Homo sapiens: one gene and its partners. The protein of the gene in region 1 interacts with the protein of each later gene in a biochemical or structural test. Each region holds a gene or a part of one and is shown on either strand. Other genes may lie near its edges. The genes, in order: RAP2A, RAPGEF6, RAPGEF5 and RAPGEF3.

Region 1 (7,882 bases):
TATAATATAAACATGTAATTGGTTGCTTAATATCTGTCTCTCCTGCTAGAATACAAGCTCTTTTGGCTAATTGCTTATTGTTTTATCCCCAGAGCCTAAAAAATATACACAGTAATTACTCAATTAATATTATAGTATCTTTGAACTATCGTTCAGATATTAGTGAAATGAAAGTGCTCACAAATGCTTGCTGATTTTTTAAAGCCCGATTTTGGCTGGAATCCCTCATACTTTTTGTTAACAGGTGGGATGTATTTTGCTGTAAGATGCAGAAAACCTTACCAACACACACTTAAATTGAAAGACACCAGCTGTTTACTTAGCCATAAGTCCAAATGTGGGCAGTTCTAATGTTGGTTTGACTGTCCAATGTTGTCATGCAGGACCTAGGTTCTTCCCATCCTCCTCCCTGGCCATCCGAAGTTGCTGGCTTTCTACAGTATTGCACCATAATGTCATAATGCATCATAGCCCCCAAATGGAGGCCACATTCTCATATTTCAATGTGTAAAGCAGGAAGCAAAGAGAGCGACATCAGAAAACGGGGATATTTCCTCACTCTTGTCAATATCCTAGAAATCCCTCCAGCCCTAGCAGCCTTCTCCCCATTCCAATGACAAGAACTGAGTCACGTGCCTACTTTTGGACTAACCGTGGGCAGAGGGAAAGCAATGCTATTAAAGTCCAATCCTGATTCATCCCAGCTTCTTTGGCAAAAATAAAGGGAAACTGCTGGGTACGCAAGCAACACTGTGCCTGCTCTTCTGCTTTGTTAAATGAACCACACTGAAGCTCTGTTTTCCGCAGAATCCTCTAGCTCTTAAGATTCTTCAGGCTTTTTCTTTTTTCTGCCTACATTTTAATCATTACGTCTTTTCTTTCAGATTTTTTTTCTGATTAAAATGGCCTTTTGAAACATCTACTCTCTCCACCCATACGTTTCTTTTATTGAGTTGTTTCCATACTCTTAATTTCTGCATTCTAATTCCTTTTCTTTTCAAAAGCACTGAGACATATCACATTTTTTAAAGGAAGAACAAAGTTTATTTTGCCCCTTCCTTTCCACTCCACATATATACTGCAGATTCTCAACTGTATTAGGAGCCTCACAGGTCAAGAAACCATCGTCTGCTCTCCTTATACTTGCCAGCAGCGTTTCACAGGTGCTAAATGTACTTGACATGCCCTTCCCCTTTATGTTTAATCAGAGGCATGCAGGCTTTAATAAGAAGCATTAGGAATCAGGGTTTTACAGTCGAAAAGTACCCCTCGCATTACAAACATCCTCTACTAATTTGTTTCTATTAAATTATCTGCATATTTGCTTCTTGCTGGTGTCAGGAAGTCCCAGAATACAGTACCTTTCCCACTTCATACCACCTTTTCCAACACCTTTTACAGAAAGAAAGGATGGACTTGGGTTTCCACGGTAACACAAGTGCGATAATTGAAGGTATCTGGCTATAGGTGAGATAACTCCCTTTCAGATTTAGTGGAGAGAGGAGAAATGAAGATTTTCTTTCTTTTTATTCTCCTGGCAATGCACTTTGGAAACTAAAGGGATCCTGCAGTGTCAGTTACTGCGTTAAGTTTTCACTATCTTACAGATTTACAGCTCTTGGGAATAATTCAAATTTCTTTTATATCATTTTTATTTTTTATTTCCCACAAACAAATGAAGATATAAGTTATTTCTATAATCATCTCAAAATAGAGTTTATGCTGGCATCGGAATGAACATGACTAAGGGGTTAGAAAATAGACATCCATCTCCCACCCAAGTCCTCTAAATTCTCTACACGTCCTGACATCCTTTTTATAGCAGCTAATCTTTCACCCAACATTTCACCTACAACCACAAATCAGGTAAGTACCATCATTTAAGCCAGAATAGGTGAGAAAATATGCTCCGACCTGTCATGTTTCTTTTGCCTCTTGGTGGTTAAAAATCAACCTTTATGGTACTGAGCATGAAATCTGAGGCCTGTCAATATAAGGCCTGTAAATAAATGAACTGTAACCACCCCAAGGGCTGCAGTCTCTATACCCCTTCTTATCAAAAACGTCAGCATTGATGAGAGGTCAGGGGAAATAGCCTGAGAAATGTCACAAAGCTGTCCTACTCTGTATTATGCTAAATGGAGTGACTACGGAGCCCACTCACTATTTTTGTGACAGCTTCAATCCAGAGCTTCTCAACATCTAGGGACCTAGGAGTCATGAAAACAGTTACTTAAGGCAACCTTCTGGACCCCACAATCCCAATACAAATTTCTCAAAAACATTAATCACTGGAACTTCATTCCTTGCAAAGTAAATGGACTTAGAGCTCCTTTGTAATGCAAGGTACTAGATGAGTTGTCATGATCTAGAGAGAAAGCTTCACGCTTCCTGGCTCTATTTAACAACCCTAAGAACTTCTTATCACCAAGATGCACAGTTAGAATCTTAAGACAGTCTGTCTTTCCTTGGAAAAGAAGTATAGCTTCTACTAACCCAAAGTAACCATGAATAAGCATACCAATTTTACACAAAATATGAGACTTCTGGAAAGCTAGGTGAACACCATACTTACCTACATCCTCTTGAAACATCCCTGCCAAAGTAGCTCAGATATGAAGCATCCATGTAAGCTCTTTCAATTTTAATTCACTATTTCATGTTAACTAGCCTAGGATGAAATAGTAGATCCTCTTCGGTTCCAGTTCCCTTAAAACAGTCCTGATTCTTAGTCCTTTTTATTAATATAATACCTTCACTGCTGATTCTGGTGGCTCAGATAGTACCATTCATATTTTAATGATATGTAATCAAGAAATGCTGAGTTATATTTTACTACATACACATTTTTAAATTCAGAGGACATTTGTCCTTGATAATTTTAAATGAAAACTTGGTGTGTGTTCATTACAGCAAGGTAATGCAAATATAAGTTATCCATTCTAATATAACGAAGCTATAGGGAAATAAGAAACTACTAAATTTGAGTAGTCTTTGTAGTAGTTTGACTATCGACAGAAAAGATGGTGAAAGAATACCTGGCTTTTAACTCAGACCAAAATCCCCTCTGCATGATGACCTTGTGGGAAAGAGGAACGGGGAGAGGTATGCCAGGCTCTAACAACAGAACTACAGAAACGTGTTATTCGCAGGAAATGTGCGACAGTAACGAACAGGTGAGACTAGTTTGAGAAGGACATAGTTTAAAGAAAGTAAACTGAATAACCAGTTACTGCAAAAAATAATGCAGGAAAGCTTGGGGATGTATCGTCTCCTAAATTTGACGTTATGGGTGGGAGAGGATGTGTAACTAAGATGCAATGCTAGCGACAGAACGCTAAGTTTTAAAACTCAATAGTGAAAGAAAAAAAATAATGTTTTGGGAGGAACGCCTGGAAGACCCATGCAACTGCTGCACGATGTTTCCTTAAGGACCGGAACATTTCTCACCCTGAAGACAAAAGTCCCTGTGTTCTCGATTCAGCCCACATCCCTCAGCACCATTTCCATGCCCATCATTTAGGCAGAATGCCACGGAGGCGACGTGAAAAGTGGAATTCATCATTCTGGCTTGCAACGCATCTTGTTCTTTTGCCAGAACAGGGCACAGCAACTGGCTCCTCAATCTCTGCCCCTCCCAAACCCCAGCAGCCGGTCCCTGTCTCCATCCCGCCGGCCTCGGTGGCAAGGGGCTCGCGAGCTCTGGTTGGCTTGGCCGAAGCTTCCGTCACTCGCCAGCTCACCTACGATTGGTTGGCAGAGCGTGCGCGAAGAGCCCCGCCTGGCAAGGCACTGGGAGGTGGGCTTGCGGATCCTACGACTAGCGTTTTTCTCGATTGGTTGAAGGAGTAAAGGCACGTGGTATGGGGGCGCTCTCTTATTGGTCGTGAATGGTACCTTGTGGTACAGAGACGTGATGTGGTTGGCTAGAATGAATCCCAGCTTCCCACTAGATGCCCCTAGCTGGCTGTTGCTATGAGGAGTCCAGGGCCTTCCGGCTGCCGTTCGGGATTCCGCTCTCCAGGTTTTCAACTCACCCGTGGCTGACAGGGCGTGGGAAGAGCTCGACTTCAGTTCGGCACCGAAAGGGGCGGGTCTAGAAGAAATGTGGGCGGGTCCAGAGGGTTGGTGGGCGGGACCCCGGCGACGTCAGCGGGCTTGGACCCGACTTCCGTGGTGTGTGGCCGCCTCTGACTCGCCCCTCTGGCGCGCTGCTAGAGGGGGGCGTCACCCTCCCATCAATGTCCTAACGCTCCAAAGCTTCATTTTGTTGCGTTTACACAACTTCAGTCAGAAGCCTGTAGGTGCCCCCCCCTTAAAGCTTCACATGCTAATACAAGATAAAACCAAAGCTCTAGGAGTGCTGACAGACTGGGTGGCATCGGACAAAGGCCCTCGCGGCCCCTCTTGGGCCTTGGGCATCTCTCCTTCACTCCCCGCCTCAGGATAAAGCTTGGAGGTAGCTCTAGCCCCTCTACCATCTCATCCCTTCCGAATTCTTAATGTCTCGGGAGTCTCAGGTTGACGCTGCTCCTGGCTTGGGCGGGAACTGCGCATGCTCGGTACACAGGCCCTGGGGTCTGACTGGGCGCGCTGGGTTCGGCGCTGCTCGGCGGTCGCGGTGCTTGTTTATCTCCGCGCGGGCAGAAGCTTCCGAGCCCCGCAAAGCCTCTCGGGAGCGCTCGCGGCCCGTCGCCTAGGGGGCGGGGGCGGGGCTGCGCCGCGGGCTCCGCCCCGGCCGCCGGACCCCGCCCCTGGCCGCGCTGCGGCTGGGGCTCGGGCGCGCGCTCGAGCGCTGGGGGTAGCGGCGGCGGCGGCGGCGGCGGCGGGCGGGGATCTGGGCGTGGAGGCGCGAGGGGCGGGGCGGGCGGCACTGCGGGCCCGCGGCTCGGGCGGCACCAGCGGCTCCCGGTCTCTCTCTCTGCTCGCCCTCAGTCCCACCCGGTGCCTACGGGGCCGCATCGCCGCCCGGCTCGGCCCGGCCCATGCCCAGGGCCGCTGCTCCCTCAGTTGCCGCCGCCGCCGCCGGCGCCCAGGGGGCCGCCGCGGCTGTGAGGTGGGGGCGGCAGCGGGAGGCGGCGGGGCGGGCCGCCGGGGCCGGGGCTGGGGGCGCAGCGCGGCCGGCGTAGGTCTATGTCGCGGGCGGCGGCGGCGGCGGCGGCCGCGGAGGGACGATGCGCGAGTACAAAGTGGTGGTGCTGGGCTCGGGCGGGGTAGGCAAATCCGCCCTGACCGTGCAGTTCGTGACCGGCACCTTCATCGAGAAATACGACCCCACCATCGAGGACTTCTACCGCAAGGAGATCGAGGTGGATTCGTCGCCGTCGGTGCTGGAGATCCTGGACACGGCGGGCACCGAGCAGTTCGCGTCCATGCGGGACCTGTACATCAAGAACGGCCAGGGCTTCATCCTCGTCTACAGCCTCGTCAACCAGCAGAGCTTCCAGGACATCAAGCCCATGCGGGACCAGATCATCCGCGTGAAGCGGTGAGCGAGGGCACACGGGGGCTTGGCGGCTGCACCCCGGAGTCACCGTCCCGGGGCTGGAACTCCCCGCGCGGGGCTCCGGGGAAGGGGCTTTCTGGGGGGTGGCTCCAAGCTGGAGGCTTTACTATTGTCATTCTGCTCCTCCTCCTCAATCTCAAATTTGAGTGCTTTGTTTCACAACTAAAATTTGGCATCGTGTTAGCCCACAGAACAGCTCTTTGTCTCTTGGACGTTGTTAGCATTGCTTGTTACAGAGCCCCCAAGGAAACAAAGTTTAAAACTTGCAGGGGGGAAAGGGGTGGATAGATTTGTCTTGGGAAGAGAGGAACTGTGCAGGTATAGTCGAGACATTTGCAGACTGAACAACAACAATCTGCCTTGGCAATGTTTGACAGTAAAAATCGCTCACACACCTATACAGTAAAGTCAAGTCCAGAGGAAGGAGACCTTTCTCATCTCGTTAAAGGTTTATGGTTCCAAGGCGTTTTACAAAAATTAAGTCTCTAATTTAGTGCAAAACTTTAAAGACAGATTATTAAATTATTTGAAGACATCATAAGCTAAATGGGGTTTCGAGAATATTAACAGAGGAGTACAAATAAGCCATTCACAGGAAAAGAATGCAGCTTAACTGTTTGTTTTTGTTTTTTTGTTTTTAATATAGCCGCCTTAACCCCTTCCAAAAAAAAAAAAAAAAAAAAAACACCACCACACCACCACCACCAGTTCCTGGAAACAAAACAGAAGCTTCTTCAAAAGTGTGACACAAGTATTAGCTAATTTAAAGTTAATGTTAATAAGCCTTTATATATATATATAAATTCTTTTCTAAAGTATACATTTTGGAAATATGGCTGATAAATGATTTAAAATGTTTGTTTTCTCTTAAATTCACTGAATATATTTTTCCGTGTAATTTTAAGCATTAGAAATGTGATAATATCTTAGTTCAAAGTTTTGGCAAATTTTTCTAATTATCATTTAATTACACATTACTGTTTCATCTAGTTCTTGTTAGTTAATGCCTGCTGATAATTTTGGTGTCCTTTTTTTCCTGCCTTATTCTACCTAGAGCCTAAATCTGAAGACCTTTACTGAAAGATGGTTGTAAGTGCACCGTAGACACAGTCACATTGTAAGTCAGTTTGAGTCCACTCATTTTGAAAGAGCAAGGACCAAGTTATGTGTACCCAGGGGATGATCAAAAATTCATTACGAGTAGTGAGTTTTTAATGCAACCTATGAGATCAAAGAGAAGGCTCTCTCTCTATTGCTCCACCCCCCCTTAACTGAGTATGCACTTTAATCGCTGAACTAAAATCGTGCATGTTATTCATCCTTGTGTTAAATTCCAAACTAGAATAAAGCAGATATTTTCGTGGTCTCTGCTGCTAAGATTTGTAAATTTGATAGCTTTGTACTTCTCCAGTATCATTTTCCTAAAGTTAAATGTTTATAGTTAAGAGATGAACAATTCTGGTGTTAAACTTAGTATGAGGATGGCATTTAAGGGGCTACATTTAAGTTACTTAAATTCTTATTACCCCCTCCCCCAACCACTCAATTAAAAAGAAACAAACCAAACCAACTGCAGGGTAGTCTGATACATTGCCACATGTCAATGTTAGGCCAAATGCATACATCAAAAAATAATCTAAGTAAATGCCCCAACAGCCTCACCCTTCACATTTAGATATATATGCTTAAAGATATGAAGATGCACATATACACTGATAAAGCCACATACCCATGGCTAACTTCTTGACACAAGCCTAGGGAACAAATATGGCAAAATATTATTGGATAATATGGTCCACATAATTTTGTAGTTTCTTGTAATTTAGTGCAGATTACTTTTCTCAGTTATAATAATAGGTTAGTCTAAACTCAGCATATTGGAGCAATTTGTTTATTTTCACTATGACCCAGAGGAAAAACATAGAGTAAAATTCTGCATGCCCAGTATCATTTTACTCACTAGTCTCAGTTCTTGATATAAAAAGATCATTGATCAGCTGAAGTAGAGTTCATAAATTCTCTTCACCAGAATTCAACCGTTGTATACATAAGAACCTCTTGGACCCTCACTTGTGTGTCTTTGTAATATGGTAGTAGTAAGGTATTTTACACCTCATCCTAACCCCAGCGTCTGGCTTCCCATCATTGATGGAGAGGACATGTGAATGCAGGTGGCCTCTTCTTTACCAGTCTTTCAGTATTTGATATCTACTGTCAAATTCAGTATTCAGCTTTAGGTCTAGGTCAGCACTTTTCAATAGAGATATAACGTGAGCCACATATGTAATTTTAACATTCCTAGTAGCTGATTTTTTAAAAATAACATAAATATATGGAATTAATTTTAATGTATTTTATTTAACCCACCATATTTAA
Region 2 (7,024 bases), on another chromosome or scaffold:
TTGTGCCACTGCACTCCAGCCTGGGAGACAAGAGAGAAACTCCGTCTCAAAAAACAAACAAACAAACAAAACAAATTAATCATCTGCCAATGTATATTTAGGGCATATGGACTTTATGTTTTATAGTTCATTTCAAAGTTTTTCAAAAAAGTCTGGGGGAGGAGGAGAAATTATCTTTCCAACCAGTGACCAGGTTGGGCCAATTCTACCTCCTTAATACCTCACTATCCCACTTAACTGCTGCCACCACTGGGTCCAGGACCTTATCTCACACCTGAACTACTGTATTTGTTTCTAACAACAAAACATACTTCTTGGTGGCTGGGCACGGTGGCTCACACCTGTAATCCCAGCATTTTGGGAGGCCGAGGTGGGTGGATCACGAGGTCGGGAGATCGAGACCATCCTGGCTAACATGGTGAAACCCCGTCTCTACTAAAAATACAAAAAAATTAGCCAGGCATGGTGGCGAGCGGCAGTAGTCCCAGCTACTCGGGAGGCTGAGACAAGAGAATTGTGTGAACCCGGGAGGTGGAGCTTGCAGTCAGCCGAGATAGCGCCACTGCGCTCCAGCCTGGGTGACAGAGACTCCGTCTCAAAAAAAAAAAAAAAACCATACTTCTTGGTTTCCATATTATCTTAGTATAATCACTAGTAGTCTTACCTTTCACATGGAAAATATCCCAGTTTGGATAAAATACATGTCCAGTCTACCTGTATACCTATAAGCCTCCCTGTCTCTAGTCTGCTCCTCCCCACTCAATTACATCTCCAAAATGCTCACATAGTAGTCTTTATAAAACTGATCTTATTTCCAGGCTTTAAACCCTGCAACGGTTCTTTCTCCTTTATTTATAAGATGGAGTCCAAATTTCTGAAATTATCCAAACCCTGCTAGTACGTCCAGCTTCATCATTAAACATCTCACATCATGTACCATCATCCCCAAACATCCTAGACATTAGCCCCAGTGTTCTGCAACCTTTTTTTCATTTTCATCCCCTCCCAAAGAACCTTTCAGACAATTTTTCGTAAGCACTGCCCCATCTCTAATTAAATACTAAAGAATAAGACACTGTCAGTTTAGGGCTGAGTTTTAGAGGGCCACAAACCATACCAATAGCTGTGATTTTTTTTCCCACTCCCATAAAAGGCAATTTTTGCATCTTTGGGAGCGATATCACTTCCAACGGGAATGCCTGCTCTAGACTTACAGATTGGCTTCTTATTCTACAAGTATACATGGCTTGCCATCATCAGTACTTTTGCTCCTGCCTCTCTGCTTGGAATGACCTCTCTTGATCATCCAGAAATCAATTCATGACATTTAACACTGGGAATTCAATGCTCCCCCATGAAGCTTGTTCCCTTCCCCATCTTGCAATCCCAAAGCCCTACTCATACCTTTGTCACTAATAACTAAAACATTTATTACATTTATGTTTTCTTATGTCTCCCAAGTCATTGATGAATAGGGACCATGTCTAACTCCTCTCTACAACCTTGGTTTTTAATATATCAGATATATTATTTCTTAAATGAATGTACAAATTAATGTTATCATCTGGGTGAGGTAACCATATCTCAGTTTAAGCGGGACAGTCCCTCTTTAACCTGTTACTCTGAAATAAATATTAACAGCTTCTCTTTTAATTCACAAAAATGATTTGAACAACATATTGTTAATCTATACCTAGGAAATATAGGAAATAAAATTCTGAGCAAGAGTAGAACATAATCAGATCTGAGAGGAAGATCACTCTAGCAGCAAGACTCAATGACTCAAGCAATAATTTGGGGGTAGAAACAATAAAACAGACTGAATTAGAGTAGTAAAACTTGTAAGAAAAGGGCAAATAAAAAGATTCAGGGGACAAAGTTTAGTGGCAAGTTGCATCTATGAGGAATGAAGAGAAATAATACAAATTCCTAGAGACAGCAACTCGGCCAGCTGCCAACAGATTATGAAGGAAGAGGAATAATGATGGCTCAATTTAGGACAAGTGGTTGAAGAACCTGGAGGACAAGATGGTTGATATATGAAGCTGAAGCACATAAAATTTAGGGGATAAGTTGGAAAACATAATCCTAGGAGGCATTAGCCTATAACAACTAACTGAAACCAAGCTGCTGAGTAAGACTGTCCAAGAAACAAAAAGTTAGCAGTTCCAATGAATACGAAGTGCTACCTTTTTAACATATGATGACTTTACAAAATGTATTTCCAAATTTTGGCTTGTAAAATATTTATTCATCATTTAATATGTGCAAATCATGGCATTAAGCACTGAGAGGGAAATAAACATTAAGGGAAATATAAGGAGTTCATTCTGAAGTAAAAAAAGGAACGTTATAAAGAATGGTATTAAATGTGGATTGAGCTGAGAAACAGCCAAGTTCAAGGTCTAATTATGACTGTGGCTTCTTTAAGGAATTCTGGCATAATGACGCAAAGAAGTACAGGCATACTCTGTTTTATTGTGCTTGGCTGGTATTGTGGGGTTGTTTTCTTTTTTTTTAAATACAAATTGAAGGTTCATGACAACCCTGCATCAAGCAAGTCCAACAGCACCATTTTTTTCAACAGCACATGCTCACTTCATGTCTCCGTGTCACATTTTGGTAATTCTCACAACATTTCAAACTTTTTCATTATATTTGCTATGGTGGCCTGTGATCAGCAATCTTTCATGTTACTACTGTAATTGTTTTGGGGCACCACAAACTGTGCCCATGTAAGATGGCAAACGTAACTGATGTATGTGTTCCAACTGTTCCACTGGCTGTTCCACCTTCTCTATCTCCCTCTCTTGGGGCCTCCCTATTCCCTGAGACATAACAATACGGAAATTAGGCCAATTAATAACCCTACAATGGCCCCTAAGTGTTCAAGTGAAAAGAGTCACCTATCTCTCACTTTAAATCAAAAGCTAGAAATGATTAAACTTAGGAAGGCTAACAACGGCCCAAAGCCAGGCCTCTTGCACCACACAGTTAGCCATGTTGTGAATGCAAAGAAAAGGCACATGGAGAAAATTAAAAGTGCTACTTTAGTGAACAAAAAAATGATTTAAAAAAAAAAAGTGAAAAAGTCTTATTGCTGATATGGAGAAAGTTTGAGTGGTCTAGATAAACCATCAAACCAGCCACAACAGTCCCTTAAGCCAAAACCTAATCCACAGCAAGGCCCTAACTTTTCAATTCTAAAAAGGTTGAGAGATGAGATGGCTGCAGAAGAAAAGTTTGAAGCTGGTGGAAGTTGGTTCATGAAGTTTACGAAAAAAAGCCACCTCCACTAACATAAAAAGTAAGTTATCCTGAAGATCTAGCTAAGATAATTAATGAAGGTGGCTACACTAAAAATCAGATTTTTAATGTAGACAAAACAGCCTTATATCAGAAGAAGATGCCACCTAAGACTTCCATAACTAGAGAGGAGAAATCAATGCCTGGCTTCAAAGCTTCAAAGGACAGGCTGACTCCTGTTAGAGGATAATGCAGCTGGTGACTTTAAGTTGAAGCCAATGATCATTTACCATTCTGAAAACCCTAAGGCCCTTAAGAATTATGTTAAATCTATTCTGCCTGTGCTCAGTAAATAAACAACAAAGCCTAAATGACAGCACGTTTGTTTACAGTATGGGTTAATGAATATTTTAAGTCCACTGATGAGACCCACTGCTCAGAAAAAAAGATTCATTTCAAAATACTACTACTCACTGACAATGCATCTTGTCACTCAAGAGCTCAGATGGAGGTACACAAGGAGATTAGTGATTTTTTTCAGGCCTGCTAATACAACATCCATTCTGTGGCCCATGGATCAAGGAAAAGTTTCAACCTTCAAGTCTTGTTATTTAAGAAACACATTTCATAAAGCTACAGCTGACATAGACAGTGATTCCCTAACAGATCTGTGAAAAGAAAATTGAAAACTGTCTTGAAATGATTCATCATTCCAGATGCCATTAAAACCATCTGTGGGCCAGGCATGGTGACTCACGCCTGTAATCCCAACACTTTGGGAGGCTGAGGTGGGAGGATCACTTGAGCCTAGGAGTTCAAGACCAGTCCAGGCAATGTATTGAGACTATCACTTAAAAGAAAAAAAAAATTGTGAAGCATGGGAGGAGGTCAAAATATCAACACTAACAGGAGTTTGAAAGAGGTTGAATCCAACCTTTATGAATGACTTTGAAGGGTACAACACTTCAGTGAAGGAAGCAACTGCATGTGTGGTAGAAATAGCAAGAGAACTAGAATTAGAAATAGAGCCTGGGCTGGCTCCCAGCACTTTGGGAGGCTAAGGTGGGAGGATTGCTTGGGCCCAGGAGTTCAAGATCAACCTGGGCAACATAGCAAGGCCTCGTCTCTACAAAAAAAAAAAAAAAATCAGCCACGCATGATGGCATGCACCTGTAGTACCAGCTACTCAGGAGGCTGAGGTGGGGTCACTTGAGCCTGGGAAGTAGAGGCTGCAGTGGGCTGTGATTACGCCACTGCACTCCAACCTGGGCAACAGAATGAGATCTTGTCTCAAAGAAAAAGAAAAAAAAAAAAAAGGAAAGAAAAAAAAAAGAAATGAAGATGGAGCCTGAAGGTGTGACTAAATTGCTGCAATCTCATGATAAAACTTGAGTAGATGAGAAGCTGCCTCTTATGCATTAGTAAAAAAAGTGGTTTCTTGAGACAACCTGCTCCTGGTGAAGATGATGTACATATTGTTCAAATGACAACAAAGAATTTAGAATACCACATAAGCTTAAGCTTAGTTGATAAAGCAGCAGCAGAATTTGGGAGGACTGACACCAATTTTGAAAGAAGTTACTGTAGGTAAAATGCTATCAAACAGCATCACATGCTAAAGAGAAATCTTTCATGAAAGAAAGTCAATTGATGTGGCAAACTTCATTGTCTTATTTTAAGAAACTGTCACAGCCACCCCAATCTTCGGCAACTACCACCCTGATTGGTCAGCAGCAGCTATCAACACTAAGGCAAGACCCTCCACCAGCTAAAAGATGACAACTAGCTGAAGGCTCAGATGACTGGTTAGTATTTTTTAGCAATAAAGTATTTTTAAATTAAGGCATATATCTTTTTTTAGACATAAGGCTATCACACACAATAAACTACTATATGTGTAAACAACTTTTATGTGCACTAGGAAATAAAATTCACGTGACTCACTTTATTGGGATATTGGCTTTACTGCAGTAGTCTGGAACCAAACCTGCAGTATCTGGGAGGTATGTCTGTACCTTAACAGTTTTTGTTGTTTTAGTGCACTTAATTGTCCATGGAGTATTTAAGTCTGAAATTTTCCATAAGAATATCTTTGCAAATTGAGAAAGAACTAGCTCAGGAAAGACAATGTTCTGTGGAAGCTGAATCTATAAGTAGGAGAAATCTCTCACACACACACTGTGTTAGAAAGATATCTAAATGGCACACTTTACAACATGTGTCTGTACTTGATGTCTGGCTCACTAGGATTATGCCTGAGTTGATAGTTTCACCTAAGGACGACAGATGGTTCAAAATAAAGGAACCATTCATTTTGTCCCAGAAACACAAGGAGTTCTTTACTCATTATTTACTCATCAATTACACGATGCAAACAAATGATTTCAACATACTAATTCTCATCCCTTTGTATATTTTTCACAACGCTTTGCACCCAGTAGGTATTCAAGGAAAAATAAGCCAAACAAATAATTTTATCCCCTTCTATTTTACAGCTTATTAATTTGGCTTCTAGGGCACCACCACTCTCTCGGTTTTTCTCCTACTGCACTGTTTGCTTCCACTCATTCTCCTTTGCTGATTTCTACTCTTCTCCCCGACCTTATACTGATCTCATGTCCCATGGTACTCACTGTCCTTGGTCCTCTTCTATTCTCTACGTACACTCACTACTTGGTAATTTTACCCAGTCTCATGACTTTCAATATCTATAAACTGATGACTATAAAATTGTTATCTCCAGCTCAGGCTTCTTAGTAATACAAATTTGTATATGCAACCTCTTACTCATTTCTAACAGACATTTCAAACTTGACATGTTCAAAACTGAATTTCTGATCTTGCCCCTAAAACCTACTCCTCCTGCAGCTTTTCCCATCTCGCTGATGGCAGCTCAAACCTCTCTGACAATAACTCCAACACTCCAGTTATTTAGGCCAAAAACCTTGAAGTCATGCTTGATTCTTCTCTTTTCCTCAAGGTCCACATCTGATCTATTAGCAAATCCTGTTGGCTAACCCTACAAAATATTTCTAAAACTTAACCACTTCTCACCACTTCCATTACTATCACTATCACTTTAGTCAGAGTGACCATCATCTCTAACCTGATTTTATGCAATAACAGCCGTTAACCTCCTGCTTTTGCCCTTAAACACCTACAGTCTATTCTCAACACAGCAGCCAGGAGACTACCCAGTAAGGTAGTCAGGTGTAGTGGCACATGCCTGTAGTTCCAGCTACTTGGGAGGTTGAAGCAGGAGAATCTGTTGAGCCCAGAAATTAGTGACCAGACTGGGCAATATAGTGAGACCCTCTTTAAAAACAAAAAGGTAGGCCAGGCGTGGTGGCTCACGCCTGTAATCCCAGCACTTTGGGAGGCCAAGGCGGGCAGATCACGAGGACAAGAGATTGAGGCCATCCTGGCTAACACGGTGAAACCCCATCTCTACTAAAAACACAAAAAATTAGCCGGGCGTGTTGGCACACACCTGTAGTCCCAGCTACTCAGGAGGCTGAGGCAGGAGAATCGCTTGATCTCAGGTGGCAGAGATTGCAGTGAGCCCAGACTGCACCACTGCACTCCAGCCTGGGTGACAGAGCAAGACTCTGTCTCAAAAAAAAAAAAAAAAAAAAAGGTTAAGTAGGTCAATATCACTCCTCTGCTTCAAAATCTTTCAGTGCTCCCCCTCACTGAAAAGTCAAATAGGATGTGCCCTATGCTATGCATCATTATCTCCACTCCTCCTTCATCTCTTACTACTCTCACACCTGTTCAC
Region 3 (7,024 bases), on another chromosome or scaffold:
TCCTTGTGTGACCTTGGACGGGTTACCCGATCTCTGTACCTAATTTCCCCTCTTATTTAATAGAGATAATAATAGTACCTGTCTTATAACATTCTTCTGAAAGTAAAATAATGAATATAAAGCATTCAGCACAGTGCCTGACCTAAAATTCATTCTCCACAATCAACCTTTCTATTAGCACAGTCTCATCAATATTCTGAAGCTTATTCTCCTAAAAACAGTCCATATTAACTATTCAGTATTGTCATTTAACAGGAGATTTTATTTATTTTTTCTCTTTTTTTATCTTTCTGGGTACAGAGTAGGTATATATATTTACGGGGTACATGAGATGTTTCGATACAGGCATGCAGTGTGAAATAAGCACATCATAGAGAATGGGGTACCTATCCTCTCAAGCATTTATCCTTTGAGTTACAAAAAATCCAATTGCACTCTTTAAGCTATTTTAAAATGCACAATTAGGTTATTATTGGTATAGTTACCCTGTTGTGCTATCAAAGAGTGGGCCTTATTCATTCTTTCTAACGTTTTTTTGGTACCCATTAACCATCCACACCTCCCCACTAGTCCCCAATTACCCTTCCTAGCCTCTGGTAACCATCCTTCTACTGTGTTCATGAGTTCAGTTGCTTTCATTTTTAGACCCCACAGATAAGAACATGCAATGTTTGTCTTTCTGTGCCTGGCGTATGTCATTCAACATAATGCCCTCCAGTTCCATCCATGTTGTTGCAAATGACTATCTCTCATTCTTTTTTATGGCTGAATAGTATTCCATTGTGTATATGTACCACGTTTTCTTTATCCATTCATCTGTTGATAGACACAGAGGTTGCTTCCAAATCTCAGCTGTTGTGGACAGTGATGCAAAAAACATAGGAAAGCAGGTATCCTTTTGATATATAATCTTTCTTTTGTGTATACACTCAGCAGTGGGATTACTGGATACTATGGTTGCTCAATTTTTACTTTTTTGAGAAACTTCAAACTGTTCTCCATAATGGTTGTACTAATTTACATTCCCACCAACAGTGTACAAGGGTTCCCTTTTCTCTGCATCCTCCTCAGCATTTGTAATTGCTGTCTTTTGAACATAAGCCATTGTCTTTTGAATATAAGCCATTTTAACTGGGGTGAAATGATATCTCACTGTAGTTTTGATTTGCATTTCTCTGATGATCAGTGGTGCTGAACACCTTTTCATAAACCTGTTTGTCATTTGTATGTCTTTTTTTGAGAAACTGTCTATTCAGATCTTTTGCCCATTTTTAAATTGAATCATTAGATTTTTTCCTATAGAGTTGAGTTCCTTATATATTCTGGTTATTAATCCCTTGCCAGATGGGTAGCTTACAAATATTTTCTCCCATTCTGTGGGTTGTCTCTTCAATTTGTTCATTGTATCCTTGCTGTGCAGGAAGATCTTCAACTTAATGTGATCCCATTTGTCCATTTTTGCATTAGTTGCCTGTGCTTGTGGAGTATTGCTCAAGAAATTTTTACCCAGATCAATTTCCTGAAAATTTTCCCCAATCTTGTAGTTTCATAGTTTGAGCTCTAAAAGTCTTTAAATCATTTTGATTAGATTTTTTATATGGTGAGAGATAGGGGTCTAGTTTCATTCTTCTGCATGTGGATAGCCAGTTCTCCCAGCACCATTTATTAAAGAGACTGTGTCTTCCTCAGTGCATGTCTTGGCACCTTGTTGAAAACGAGTTCACTGTAGGTGTGTGGGTTTGTTTCTGGGTTCTCCATTCTGTTCCATTGGTCTATGTGTCTGTTTTCATGCAATTACCATGCTGTTTGGGTTACTATAGCTCTGTAGCATAATTTGAAGTCAGGTAATGTGATTCCTCCAGTTTTGCTGTTTTTGCTTAGGGTAGCCTTGGCTATTCCGGATCTTTTGTGGTTTCATATAAATTTTAGGATTGTTTTTTCTATTTCTGGGAAGAATGTCATTGGTATTTTGGTTGGGATTGCATTGAATCTGTAGATTGCTTTGGGTAATATGGATATTTTAACAACATTGATTATTCTAATCCATGAACATGAAATATTTTTTCCATTTGTGGTGTCCTCTTGGATTTCTTTCATCAGTGTTTACAGTTTTCATTACAGAGATCTTTCACTTCTCTGGTTAGTTCCTAGGTATTTAATTTTATTTGTGTCTATTGTACACGCTGGTGTAAATGGTGGAGGTGAGGTGGTATCAGTGATTCAGTACTGTTTTTTCTATTTCTTCAGTGCTCCTTTCAGCAATATGGAACTATAACCGGGTATTATGAGTGCTCACCTGATTTTTGGTTCTTATGAAGGTCTTTTTTTCTGTGTAGATAGTTGTTAAATTAGGGTCACTGCCTGGGAGACAATTGGTGGAGACTTCAATTCCCTAATCTTGCTCCACCTCCTTCTCAACAGTCAACTGTCATTTTTTTAACTAATAAGAGTTACCCTTGTTATGGTTATACAGGTATTTCTCTCTGAACCTACTTTCTTATCTATGACATAAAGACCATACTGCTTGCCCCCGCTAATATCATAGAAGTGAAAGAGTCAACAATATGGGAAAGCATTCTGGACACTGAAGTGTTCTGCATATGTAACAGTTTTTAACTGAAATTTTAATCCATAACTCATAATTCTAAAATAAGCTATCACCATGGATAAACAAAGTCATGTCAGAATCACCACATCATGACTCAAGTCCTGTTCCCAAGCCTTCCCTAATTAATTTTAATTCATTTTAATCATATAGTGATTCAGTATCTTCATGTGATGATTCACGTGTTTTAATTTGCCAAATGTTGCTTCTAGACTATTTTCAGAAACATTCTGTTGAGCTCTTAGGAAAGTCACGATTTGGATAGCGAATAGGATGGGAGTTACTATTTTATTCCAACTTAAGCCCAATCATATGTTTTTTCTTAATTTAGATCATCTACTCCTATAACAATGATAATTTAGAAACCACATGGTACAGATGGTTAGGCATAGGCTTCTGGGATTTAAATACCAGTTATTTATTAGCTGGATTTAATTTTCTGCAATTTATTTTATCTTTCTAAATGTGCATCTGAAAAATGGGGATAGTAACTCCCTCTTAAGTGAGACAGTGATCTTAAAGAGCAGAATATAGTCCCTAGACATGGTAAATGTTGTCTAAGTGTAAGAATACAATGGCACAAGAGAGCATCTACTTACAGTTCACAGATGCCACCTCTGGCAGGAATGAGAGGCACAAGTTGCAGTAAAAGCTTGACACCATTTTGCCATTCTTCTTCTCTTTCAAATTCACAGTACAAGTAGCTACATTCATCAGAGGAAAACTGGTAGAAAACATAAGTATCTTGAAAGTATAGATGCTGGTCCACTGTTTGAAACAAAAAATATATAGATCAATTTTTTAAAAGATATTACTCAGAGAGTAATAACTCAAATGATAAATTGAAAGCCCTAATAATTGGGAGCAATCAGGGTTAAGACTATAATTATACATTCTAAGCTCATTCATGTTTATAATCCCATTGAATTGGAAAGGACTTACTGACTAGTCTATTTTTACTACTAGAAGCTCTGGCCAGCATATTCACATGTATTCATATTTTTTCTGCTTCAGAGACAGGTGCAGATAAAATCAATAACAATTCAAAGAGGATGGGGAGAAATCTTTTTTAGTGACCCAAAGCAAATTAGTATATTTAATTAATTTAGTAATACAGAAATACAACATAATGGCAAGTTTTAGATCAATGATTCTCAACTTAGGGTGACTGTGCCTCCCCCAGGGGACATTTGGTGACGTCTAGACATTTTTGGTTGTTACATTTTGGGGGCAGAGCGCTACTAGTATTGGAGGGTAGAAAAAAGGGATGCTGTTAAAAAAAACCCTACAATGTACGGGACAGCCCGTCACAACAAAGAACTATCTAACCCAAATGTCAATACTACCAAGGTGGGGAAACCCTGTTTTAAAGGAATCAAGAGCTAGAGATTTTTCCAAAAGGTATTAGTACAAAATGTTTTGCTAACCAAAAGCCTGAAACTATCAAGTATCCTAATAATACCTCCATTCTTCAAAGGTAGTTAACTAATTTTATAAATAAGAGTATTCGGTGCTAGGTACTATTGACTATCTAAGAAGATTACACCCACGTCCATATCTGTACCATTCTTTCACAACAGGACCAGGGGTATGCCCTTGATATTTATTACCTATAGGAAAAAAGTGCTTTTCAGTGACCAACTAGCAGCTGAGAGACTGGGCTAAATAAATAATCCAGATTGCTCGGTTTCTAATCCTTCAGTTCTCTGGGCTCAACTAAGAAAAGAGATATCCATCACCTATTTTAGTTGCCAGTTAACATCTACTTTCTGTTCAGTCTAAACAGCTAATTTTCATAGGTCATATATCAAAGTGTTCATGATTACTTAGTCAATTAAAATGGCATAACATCCCACTCATAAAATCAGTTTCTGATGATTATCCTAACTACAAGATAAATCACACACTTAGAGCAACTAAAGATGTCACTGATTTTGAAAAAAGTTTGTAAGCAGCATATTGAGTTCAGAAGAAAGGAAGTAGAGGAAGGACTCCTACAGGTAATATTAGTCTATGAATCAGCAAGTATCTAATAATTTTTGCAAGAATTGTAAGAGAAATAAGTGAATCAAAAGATGACCTGTCACTTAGAAAATAAGAGAGAATACAAATATTTATCTTCAAAAATAATTTCCATCCAGACTGTAACATCCTCTAGAAAATCAAGTGTATTTTCATCTGATAGCTTAATAAAATAATGATGCTGTGCCTTCAAGACATAATACTAACCTGATAACATAATTCCCATGTCCAGTAGGAGTTGCCAGACTCCTATGGCCATAGATCTGCACTGGACGAAAGGACAGTGTTCTAGAAGCCAGTCTACCAGCTCTGACCCAACGCAGCTCCTCCTGAACAAAAGCAAAGCCATTCACAGTAAGATATTGCTGACATCCGTTTGCCAAAAAAACAAAAATGATATATAATACCTTTCCTTTCATGTGCTTGCTTTTTTTAGACAAGCAACCCAAGAATAAATGGCATATACCTCTTATTCATCTTTCAGATTAAAGCTCAAATATCACTTCCTTAGGGAAACAAGAGTCAAATTGTCTTCTACTTTTTCATCAAATCACCTAAAATTTAGTAAGTATATATCTTTACAAAGGAACAATATCTGCTTATCCCACTAGAGAATAATTTTCAGGAGAGCAGGAACTTTATATAACTCACTATTAATTCCCAACAATTAGAACAGTCCACAATACACAGTAAGTTGTCAAAATATATTTGTTTGAAAAACGAAGGAATAAATTTAGCAGCCTTTTATATAGAGATAATGCTTTTACCTTGGTAAGCTACATACCTCAAGTTGGTGGTGATAAACTTTGGTTCAATTATTTATAGATTTTTATCTAGTCCTTTTGAGAACAAAATAATTCCAAGATTAGACAAAATTGGGACCACAGTCAGTTGTATAGAGTTTGTTTGCTATTCTTCAAACAAAGATTGAACCCTAAAATTTACTCCAAGAACAATAAATTTGATTGTTAATCTTTTTAATATAATCATTGTAACTATTTAAGCAGCCCAGGTCACATAACCATAAACCCAGATGTGTTGGATTCCACTAACCACGCATGAAAAATTATTTTTGTAATCTGTCTTAAAACACACAACTATATTCAAAAAAATGTCATAACCTGGTTATTACAGGCGGTATCATCATGCCTACTTTTCAGATACATATGAGCCTCAGGGGGAAAACAAAAAGAAAAACTTCTGAAGTGTTTTGTCATTTGCAGAAATTTCATCAAATTTCACTCTCCCTTATGAGAAAAGATCATGAAAAAAAATTTTTTTTGAGACAGGGTCATACTCTATCACCCAGGGTGGAGTGCTGTGGTGCAATCTCGGCTTACTGCGACCTCTGCCTCCTAGACTTGAGAGATCCTCCCACCTAAGCCTCCTGAGTAGCTAGGAGTACAGGTGCTCACCACTGGCTAATTTTTGTTTTTTGTAGAGACTGAGTTTTGCCATGTTGCCCAGACTGGTCTCAAACTCCTGAGCTCAAGTGATCCTGCCTCAGCTGCCCAAACTGCGGAGATTACAGGTATGAGCCAAGCACCTGGCCAAAATGTTTTTTTAAAATAATGTATCATATAATGACTATCTTTATATGCAGTACTGAAGGACCAAGAGATGCCGACATTTATTTGTATTTCTAAAGTAGAAAAATATTGCCTATTTTGCTGTCTCTTGTGATTGGCATAGTTACAAATACCCTAGAATCACACCATAACCAACAATATGAACTGCCATGGATGCTACATTTTCTGGGGTGAAGAAAAATAAAGTAGTAAACTTTTCTGCTGAGATATTTGATCAAACATCCCAGCTTTTCATCAAAAGCTAGAATATATTTGGTAAAGTGTCACTATTTGACAGATACTCTAAGGCAATTAAGCCAATTCTAGACATGTTCAGTTGCAGGTTAGCATAAGACAGCATAAAGATTAACAGTCAAATATATGGATTTCTTTTTTTAGAGAAAATGAGAAAACAGATGGCAATAAAACAGGCAATTAGACCAAACAGTCAAGACTTAACTTCTAATTCTATAGGATATCTTTCATGTTAAAGGTTCAAAGTGTTAATTAACTAATTAATTCCTCAACACCTCTGCCAATTAGTCAGCATCTCAGGGCTTTGAAAGCACTTTTATCTCATGGATTAAATACTGTACCATCTTAATTCATATTCTCAAAACAATGCAGGTCCTCAGTCTGCTCTGAGTGTCTGACATCACCTGGACTATGAAAGAACACAATAAAGCATTTACTAAACAAACTAAACTGTCAAACTGCAAAGGTAGCTAGATGGATACAGCTGCTTGTTTGTTCACAGGTGATATGGAAGAAGCTTCTTAGAACAAGGCTTCTCAAAACTCTGCTTAGGAGTCACCTGGGTGATCTTCTT
Region 4 (7,024 bases), on another chromosome or scaffold:
CTGAGAGGCTCTCTCCAGCACCAGCACCACTTTGCCATGTTCTTCCAGCCGCATGGTCTTTGCCTCCACATCCTGGAGAACAGGCCACATCCCATGCTCAACTCATGATGTTCCAGCTTTAGACCCTCTCATCTACCTCCTTCATTCCAGCCCCTGAGCCCCATGAGGGTCCCACAGGGACCCACAGCCCTTCTCCCACCTCCGACTTTGGCTCCACCTCCTCAGCCTTCCCTACCTTCCATGCATCCTGCCTCCCCCACAGCCTAGTCCCCCGCCCCCTGCATGCCCATCCTTCCCCTGGTCTCCCACACTGAGCCTGAAGTCACTGGTCTCACTGAACTCCTTCTGTGCCTTATGGGCTTCACCTTCTCACACACACCCAGGGCTATGGTCCCACTGCCAGCTGTCATAGCCCAGCATCTCTTACCTGCCCTGCTTCTTACAGGCCCTCTGCTCTGGTCCCTACTCCTCTCTCCACATCACTTCTCTGGACGAATGGCCCCTGCCCTCCCCAACCCCAGCAGCAGCACCTTGATGATACGGTTGAAGTCCTGCTTGTCCACACGCAGGAAATGACAGTTGTCTTCTCGCAGGATGATGGTGGCTGCCCGGGGTGCATCATTCACCAGAGCCAGCTGTCCAAAATCATCTCCCTCATGCAGGGTGGTCACCAGCCCCTGCAGCCAGGCCTCAGTCTCAGCCCGCCCCTGCCGCCCCTGCCGCCCCCAGCTCTTGCCAGGACAGACCCACGGCAGGAGAACAACCCACACAGGAGACACGGGGTCAGCAGCAGTAGATCAACAAAGGCACTGCCCATGAGGACATGGACCAGGGAGCAGTTAGGACCCAGGGCACTGGGGTGGGGAGGAGGGAGGGCTCACCTTGCCATGGGTCACCACGTTGACAGATCCCTTCCAGATAATGTACCACGAAGTGCCCTTGTCCCCCTGGCTGAACACTGACAGAAGCATACCTCAGACCGGGCCCTCCTGGCACCTACCATTCCTTCACACATCCTTCTGCCCATGTCCAGGCCCTGTGCCTGGCTTCTTATGCCCTGCTGGACTTACACACGGTCCCTGCCTTGCTGTGTGGTTCAAAGAGCAGAACAGCCGCTAATTCTCGCTTCACCTGTGTGGTGGAGATAGGAGAGTCGGTGGCGACAAGTTCATGTGCAGAGCAGCCAGGCTTTTGCTAGGGGTGTGGTTAGGTCCAAAGACACAAGTGCTGGGGGACAAAGATGTGGCCAGGTCAGGTGTTCCCAGGATTCAGCAGGAGACAAAGCAAGTGGAGAAAATGGGCTGAGAGAGGCGGAAGGATTTTCAGACAGGGCAGCGCCGGGGGCAAGAAATCAGACTGAAAATTTCCAGCCATAGATGGAAGTGGAGAAATGCCCTCTGGCCCAGCAGTTGGAGTTTCAGGGAAGTCACAGGAAGAGAAGATGCCTGGTACGGGGCAGGGCTGGGAGGGGCAGGACTGACCGAGTTGGAGAGGTGGGCCACAGCCTTGATGTGCAGCAGCTCCTCAAAGATGAGGTCCAGCTCTTCATCCGTGCGCTGACCTGGGCTGCAGGGACAGGAGGAATGGGAGCACACTGTGAACTGTGGGCCCGTCAGGTGCAGGGAGCCACTCCACCCACCCAGCCGATGCCTGTGCCAGACGGTGCCTCAGCAGTGACAGTTATCAGCAGCAGCTAACCTTTACTGAGTGCGCACATGTGGCAGCGCTTGTGATGAGCATTTTGCATGCATTGTTTCACAACAACCCTAAGGAGTGGTTCTATCATCCTCACTTGACAGAACAGGAACTAGCATGAGGAGGCTCAAGGTCACCCAGCCAGTAGCCAGTCCAGCTGGAATTTGAACCTGGACCCACCGGACTGCAGTTTCCAAAACCCACTTGCTTTCAGCCACAACTGTGTCTCTGAGTGGGAAGGGTCCTCAGAGATCCCCCTGGTCCAACATCCTCATCTACAGAGGAAGAAACTGACTTGGGGGGGTTTGGGAGTGTGGAGGGATCCAGGTCACACAGTGAGTCCGTGGCAGTCAGCGCCAGGGGCTTCTGGGCCAGCCAGGTTCCCTTCCCTCCACAACAGGTAAGGGATGCCCCCAGAGATCAATCTGAGAAACCGTGAAATCTGAGTGCTGTGTGAGGCCTGGGGTCACGGGGTGCAGGGATTCTGACTCACGGCTTTCGAAGTGCCACAGTGAGCAGGGCGTCAGGCCCCCGCTGGGAGAGCAGGGCCACAGCTTCGGCCAACTCCTCCTCCATCTCATGAGTTCTCACGGGCTCGGGCTCGGGCCCGGGGAACCGGTAGAATTGGGCATCTCGGTCCTGGAAGGCCCAGTCGTGTTTCACTGGGGGGCAGAGGCCCAGGCGTGGGGGAGGAGAGGAAATTGAGGCTATGTGGGTATGAAACCCCACTGCGATGCCACCCCTCAGCACTCCCCAAGTAGTGCCTGCTTCCCAGGACTGCCCTGTCCTGTCCCCCTCACTGCCCAGCCCAGCCCGGGGCACCCCACCCTGGGCTCGGGCTCACCATGGCAGAGGGCACCTTCATCCAGCAGCACCTGGCAGATTCCCACAACTTGGCTCCGGGAATGGACCCCAAGTCCCAGGGCCAAGATCCCATCCACCAGCTCCCGGCCAGAGCAGCACTGCCTATGGAAGGTAGAAGGGGACAGGCCAGTGGAAGGAGGGTGGCAGGGAGAGGGAGGAACTATGCATTAGAAAGGCACCCTCTGAGGCCCAAGCCTGGTTCGTCCCTGTGCTAGAAGCAGGGTGAGGCCCAGGTGCCTGACATAAAGTGGAACGGAGAGAAAGCAGTGAGGCTGGGCAAGGAGGCAGCAGGGCCTCCACTCACCGATAGAGCCTAAGGTGGTACTTCCGGTCTCGGATGAGGTTTGGGCAGGTGGCCAGCAGATGCCGATGCAGCTGCCTCCCAGCCCTGAGCACCCGCTCTGTGGAGGCCTTAGAGGGAGGAAGGGCACAGCAGTTCAGGCTCTGAACCCCTCATGGTGCTGCCTGTCCCAGCTCCACCCTGCCCAGGCTTCTACCTGCTCCAGGCTCTCGCTGAAATCCAGGGACTCCTCGCTGTTGGTGAGTGGTGTCTGGGGGCAGCAGGGAAAGCGTGCACATCAGTGTGAGGTCTTCAAGCCCAGCTCTTGGATACCTCCCCTCCCCCATCACTCCCACTCTTGCCTAGGCCCCAACCCCAAATGCATCCATGTGGCCACTCCTTCAGCAAATAAACAAATATTCACTCAGCACCCTGTGCCCCGGGCATCGCCTCTTCCCACCCTGCCATCCTGATCACCAAACCCAACTCAAGGACTGCCTCCCTACAGTTGAGAGCCCTAAGACACCCATTCTGCTTACTCAGGGCCCAGGTGTGCCCATGCCCCCAGGTGAACTGCCCCTGTTGGGGGAAAGAAGTGAGGGAGCTGGAAGGAGCATGAGGACATGAGATAAGAAGACCTGGGAGATGGGAGCCAGGATGTGAGCAGCTCAGGAGGCCTGGGAACATCCGCTCCTGGGCTGGGGTCACAGACCTGATCCCCAGCCAGGTTCTGTGTCCTTCCACAGGCCCATGAGCAGGTGTCTTGCCATCTCTGGGCCTCGGATCAGCCTGGTTGTCAAAACACAAACCCTGGAGCCAGGCTCCTGGATTAAAATCTCTGCTTCCCCACTGATGGCAGATGTGACCTGAAACAAATGATTTAACCTCTCCCTCCCTACCTGAGTCTCCTGAACTGTAAAATCTACAAAGCACTAATAATACCGACTCATGAGGTTTTGGGAGAATTAAATGAGTTGCTACACATCGAATGTTTAAAGCATTGCCTGGCATATAGTTGTATGCACATGTTAGCTAGTACTCATCTGTGAGGCATTAGGGTGGGGCTGCTTGCTGGAAAGCGTCTTTCTTCTCTGAGATGTTGCTAGCCTGTGCCCTGCGAGAGTGAATAAGTCCTTGGTGGCACACAGGACTGGCTCAGGAAGACGCACTTTATCATGGAAACACTGCTTAGTAAGGATTCCCTGCCCTTGGTAACAAGCCATTTGGAACTCCCGGGCCTGTACGCCCTGGAATAATGGCCATGAAAGCCCCTCACGACCCTTCTCTTCCTACCACCTGAGAATCTGGGGTTTGTGGACATCTCTGGACAGGATGCTCTACCATCTACGAGCCCTCTCAAAGGGCTCACTTTACAGTTTACAAAGCACTTTACAGTTTACAAAGCACAATCGCCCCCTTGATTTCATTGGATCTCATGTAAAATAGGATCAGATGTGAAATAGGCAGAGCAGGCATTGTCTGTCCTCTGTCACTTACAAGGAAATAAAAGCCTGGAGGTGAGGTACCTTGTGTAACTCAGTTGCGCATACTTCGGACAGCCAGACAGCTGTGGAGAAGTTCAAGTTCCCACCCAGAAGTGCTCCCATTCTCAGTCTCCCTACACCCACCCCACCTGCCCCTTTCCTCTCCCCTCACCAGCCACCTCTCTCCTAGCTTCCCATCTGGCTTCAGGTCCCTGAAAAGGACCTGCTGGGGAGTTGCAGTACAACCAGTCCTGGTGCTGGCAGGGCCCTGGGCACAGGCATCTTGGCACTGCGTGCCCAAGCAGAGGCCTGAGGTCTGGCATGTGCAGGCGCCTGGCCCAGGGCTGGGCGGAAGTCACTAGGTGTCCCAAGGGTATCCCTGCCCGGGTCATGGGGCCCAGCCCAGTGCCAGACACAGAGCCCTGGAGACTTAACGACAGGAAATGAGAAGGAGGAGGAGCCAGGGAAGGGAGGAAGGGCAGGAATGCTACCCAGCCAGCCCCCTGTGTCGGAACAAACAGTGCCTGAGTGCTAATGACTTGTTGTTCATATCAAAATGCCCAGGTGGCCCCAGTCCCTGCCCCAACTCCCATTGGAGCCCACAACCCAGGCTCCAGCACCAGCCCCCTTCCTGGTATTATTCTGACTTGGGAGAGGGCACATTAGGAGGGGTGGTGCTGGGTCACGTGGCCAGGTTGGTCATTTCCTGTCCTCCCCCAGGGGATGAGGATGCAGGTCAGAGAATGGCCCTAGTCCATGAGCACTGAGGAAGGGACTTTAAGGAATCCCTCTCATTTTGACAAGGAAAGCAAAAGCCCAGAGAGATCACACAACTATTTAGAAAGGTAAGATTCTACTGAATAACTCTGCTACTGGTGCTGACCCCAGAGGTAGGTATTTGTTTCCTATTTCACAGCTAGAGAAAAGAAAGCTCCAAGGTTCTATAACCTGCCCTAACTGTTGGTCAATAAGGGCACCAGGATTCATACCTATGTCTGATTCCAAAGGCCATGCTCTTAGCATTATGCCCTACCGTCTTCCATTATGCCTATTCCCATGTTTCCTCAGCTTTGTGCTATAGGCACAGACAGTAGAGGTATTCTGCCTTCAGGCAAGTTCTGTGGGCAAGTAAGTTTGGAAACCACTGGGTTAGACAAAGATAGACAGGTTTGTTATTCTACCCTCTCTGTGCCCCCAGGATGTTTGTGTGCCTGCCAACCTTCTAGGATGGGGCGGAGAGAGGGCTGCTATTCAAGGGCAGTGGTCAAGTGTGTAGGCTCTGCAGCCAGATGCTTGGGTTCAAATCCTAGCTTTTGCGTTACCATCTGGTTGTGTGAGCTCGTGCTGATTACTGAAGTTTGCAGTGCTTCGGTTTCCTCATCTGTAAACTGGGGTTGATGATATGAATAGTACCTATCACAAAGGGTTATGAGGATCAAAAAGTTAATAATATAAAGTACTTGGAATGGTGCCTGGATCATAGTAACTACTTAGTAAGTTTAGTTGACTTGATCAGATGTTATTATTTCATGATGGGCCCTATTACCAGGACACAGTGCAAAAAAATACAATGCTAGTCATGTCAGTTTCAGGGTTCTCAGTTGGGAAGAAGCAGCTGATATGAGTCAAGGTGAAGGTCCTCCTCACCCACTCCCCACTCTCATTCCTGAACAGAAAGGGTTCAGGGCGGAAGAGGAGGCACTAACTCCCCTGGCACCAGCACTGTGGCCTGCCCCACCCTCACTCCCTGTCACTGAATGTCAGAGCTGGGCTGGAGAGACAGGCACAGAGCCAGACAGCCTGGGGACCTGTCAGACCAGTTCCCTTGGGCCATAGCTAAGGTGTCAAGCTAGGGCTGCTTGTGGTGGGACAGGGGAAGGGTGCATGGGGCCGGGATGATGCCTTAAGGTGTCAGTGTTACTGTTCGTAGCAAGAGAGAAGTGCAGCATGGTGGTTATGTGGTTATGAGCTTGGACTCTGCAGCCAGATTGCCTGGGACCAAAGCCCAGCTTTGCCACTTAGCAGCTGCGTAACTCTGAATCTGTCACTTAACCTCTCTGTGGCTTTGTTTTCACATCTATAAAATGGAGATGATGACATTAGTACCTATCTCACAGGGCTGTTGTGAGAATTATTTGATATGATAAAGGCAAACCTCTTTCAATAATGTCTGGCACATAAGTACTGTATAACTATTAACTACTACTATTATTTGGATAGGTTGAATGAAAGTGCGTTCTCGGAGTTACAAAACAGGGCCACTTCCCCAAGAACAGTCACACAAAGAGAATCATCTCAGACTTCCCTGAGCTAGTAGAACCCACCACAGGTCACTCTGATCTTGCCCCTGCCCCCGGACATCAGACAAGATCTCACCTCCCCCTCTTATTTTCCAAAGATGTTCTTCCATCCCATTCCAGTGTCACTTTTGCAATAGCTGTTAAGTCTTATCTTAGTCTGTATCTAACTGCAAGCCCTCCTACTGTAACCCGCTTTCATTTTCTCTTGTCCTGGTCTAGGTAGGAACAGAAAGAGCTGTCTTCAGACTTCTTCTCTGGGAGGTTGATGGGTTTTCCCCTTGGCTTTCGAAGAGGGAGGTCTGGCCTCAATAACTGGCAGTGCTGTCTTCCTGGGACTCGGGCTCCACCCCTTCACCATGGGCGTGCATGCTCACAGCTGGCACTCATTCCCTCACGGAAGC

Evidence for each region.
Region 2: of the proteins of RAP2A (region 1) and RAPGEF6, one has a biochemical effect on the other in vitro, tested with the Homo sapiens proteins (one study listed by BioGRID).
Region 3: of the proteins of RAP2A (region 1) and RAPGEF5, one has a biochemical effect on the other in vitro, tested with the Homo sapiens proteins (one study listed by BioGRID).
Region 4: of the proteins of RAP2A (region 1) and RAPGEF3, one has a biochemical effect on the other in vitro, tested with the Homo sapiens proteins (one study listed by BioGRID).

Annotation. Positions count from the first base shown.
Region 1 is NC_000013.11:97,429,297-97,437,178, forward strand, and holds the start of RAP2A (ras-related protein Rap-2a), read left to right. Parts: upstream 1-4,872; 5' UTR 4,873-5,174; coding exon 5,175-5,488; intron 5,489-7,882. UniProt on the Homo sapiens protein: Small GTP-binding protein which cycles between a GDP-bound inactive and a GTP-bound active form. In its active form interacts with and regulates several effectors including MAP4K4, MINK1 and TNIK.
Region 2 is NC_000005.10:131,625,215-131,632,238, forward strand, and holds part of RAPGEF6 (rap guanine nucleotide exchange factor 6), read right to left. Parts: intron 1-7,024. UniProt on the Homo sapiens protein: Guanine nucleotide exchange factor (GEF) for Rap1A, Rap2A and M-Ras GTPases. Does not interact with cAMP.
Region 3 is NC_000007.14:22,305,135-22,312,158, forward strand, and holds part of RAPGEF5 (rap guanine nucleotide exchange factor 5), read right to left. Parts: intron 4,957-7,024; coding exon 4,835-4,956; intron 3,374-4,834; coding exon 3,205-3,373; intron 1-3,204. UniProt on the Homo sapiens protein: Guanine nucleotide exchange factor (GEF) for RAP1A, RAP2A and MRAS/M-Ras-GTP. Its association with MRAS inhibits Rap1 activation.
Region 4 is NC_000012.12:47,748,860-47,755,883, forward strand, and holds part of RAPGEF3 (rap guanine nucleotide exchange factor 3), read right to left. Parts: coding exon of another isoform or gene 6,990-7,024; exon of another isoform or gene 6,843-6,989; intron 5,169-6,842; exon of another isoform or gene 5,075-5,168; intron 3,111-5,074; coding exon 3,057-3,110; intron 2,971-3,056; coding exon 2,864-2,970; intron 2,662-2,863; coding exon 2,540-2,661; intron 2,403-2,539; coding exon of another isoform or gene 2,358-2,402; coding exon 2,189-2,357; intron 1,567-2,188; coding exon 1,482-1,566; intron 1,132-1,481; coding exon 1,071-1,131; intron 959-1,070; coding exon 882-958; intron 678-881; coding exon 531-677; intron 73-530; coding exon 1-72. Other genes in the region: SLC48A1 (heme transporter HRG1), read left to right, coding at 6,990-7,024. UniProt on the Homo sapiens protein: Guanine nucleotide exchange factor (GEF) for RAP1A and RAP2A small GTPases that is activated by binding cAMP.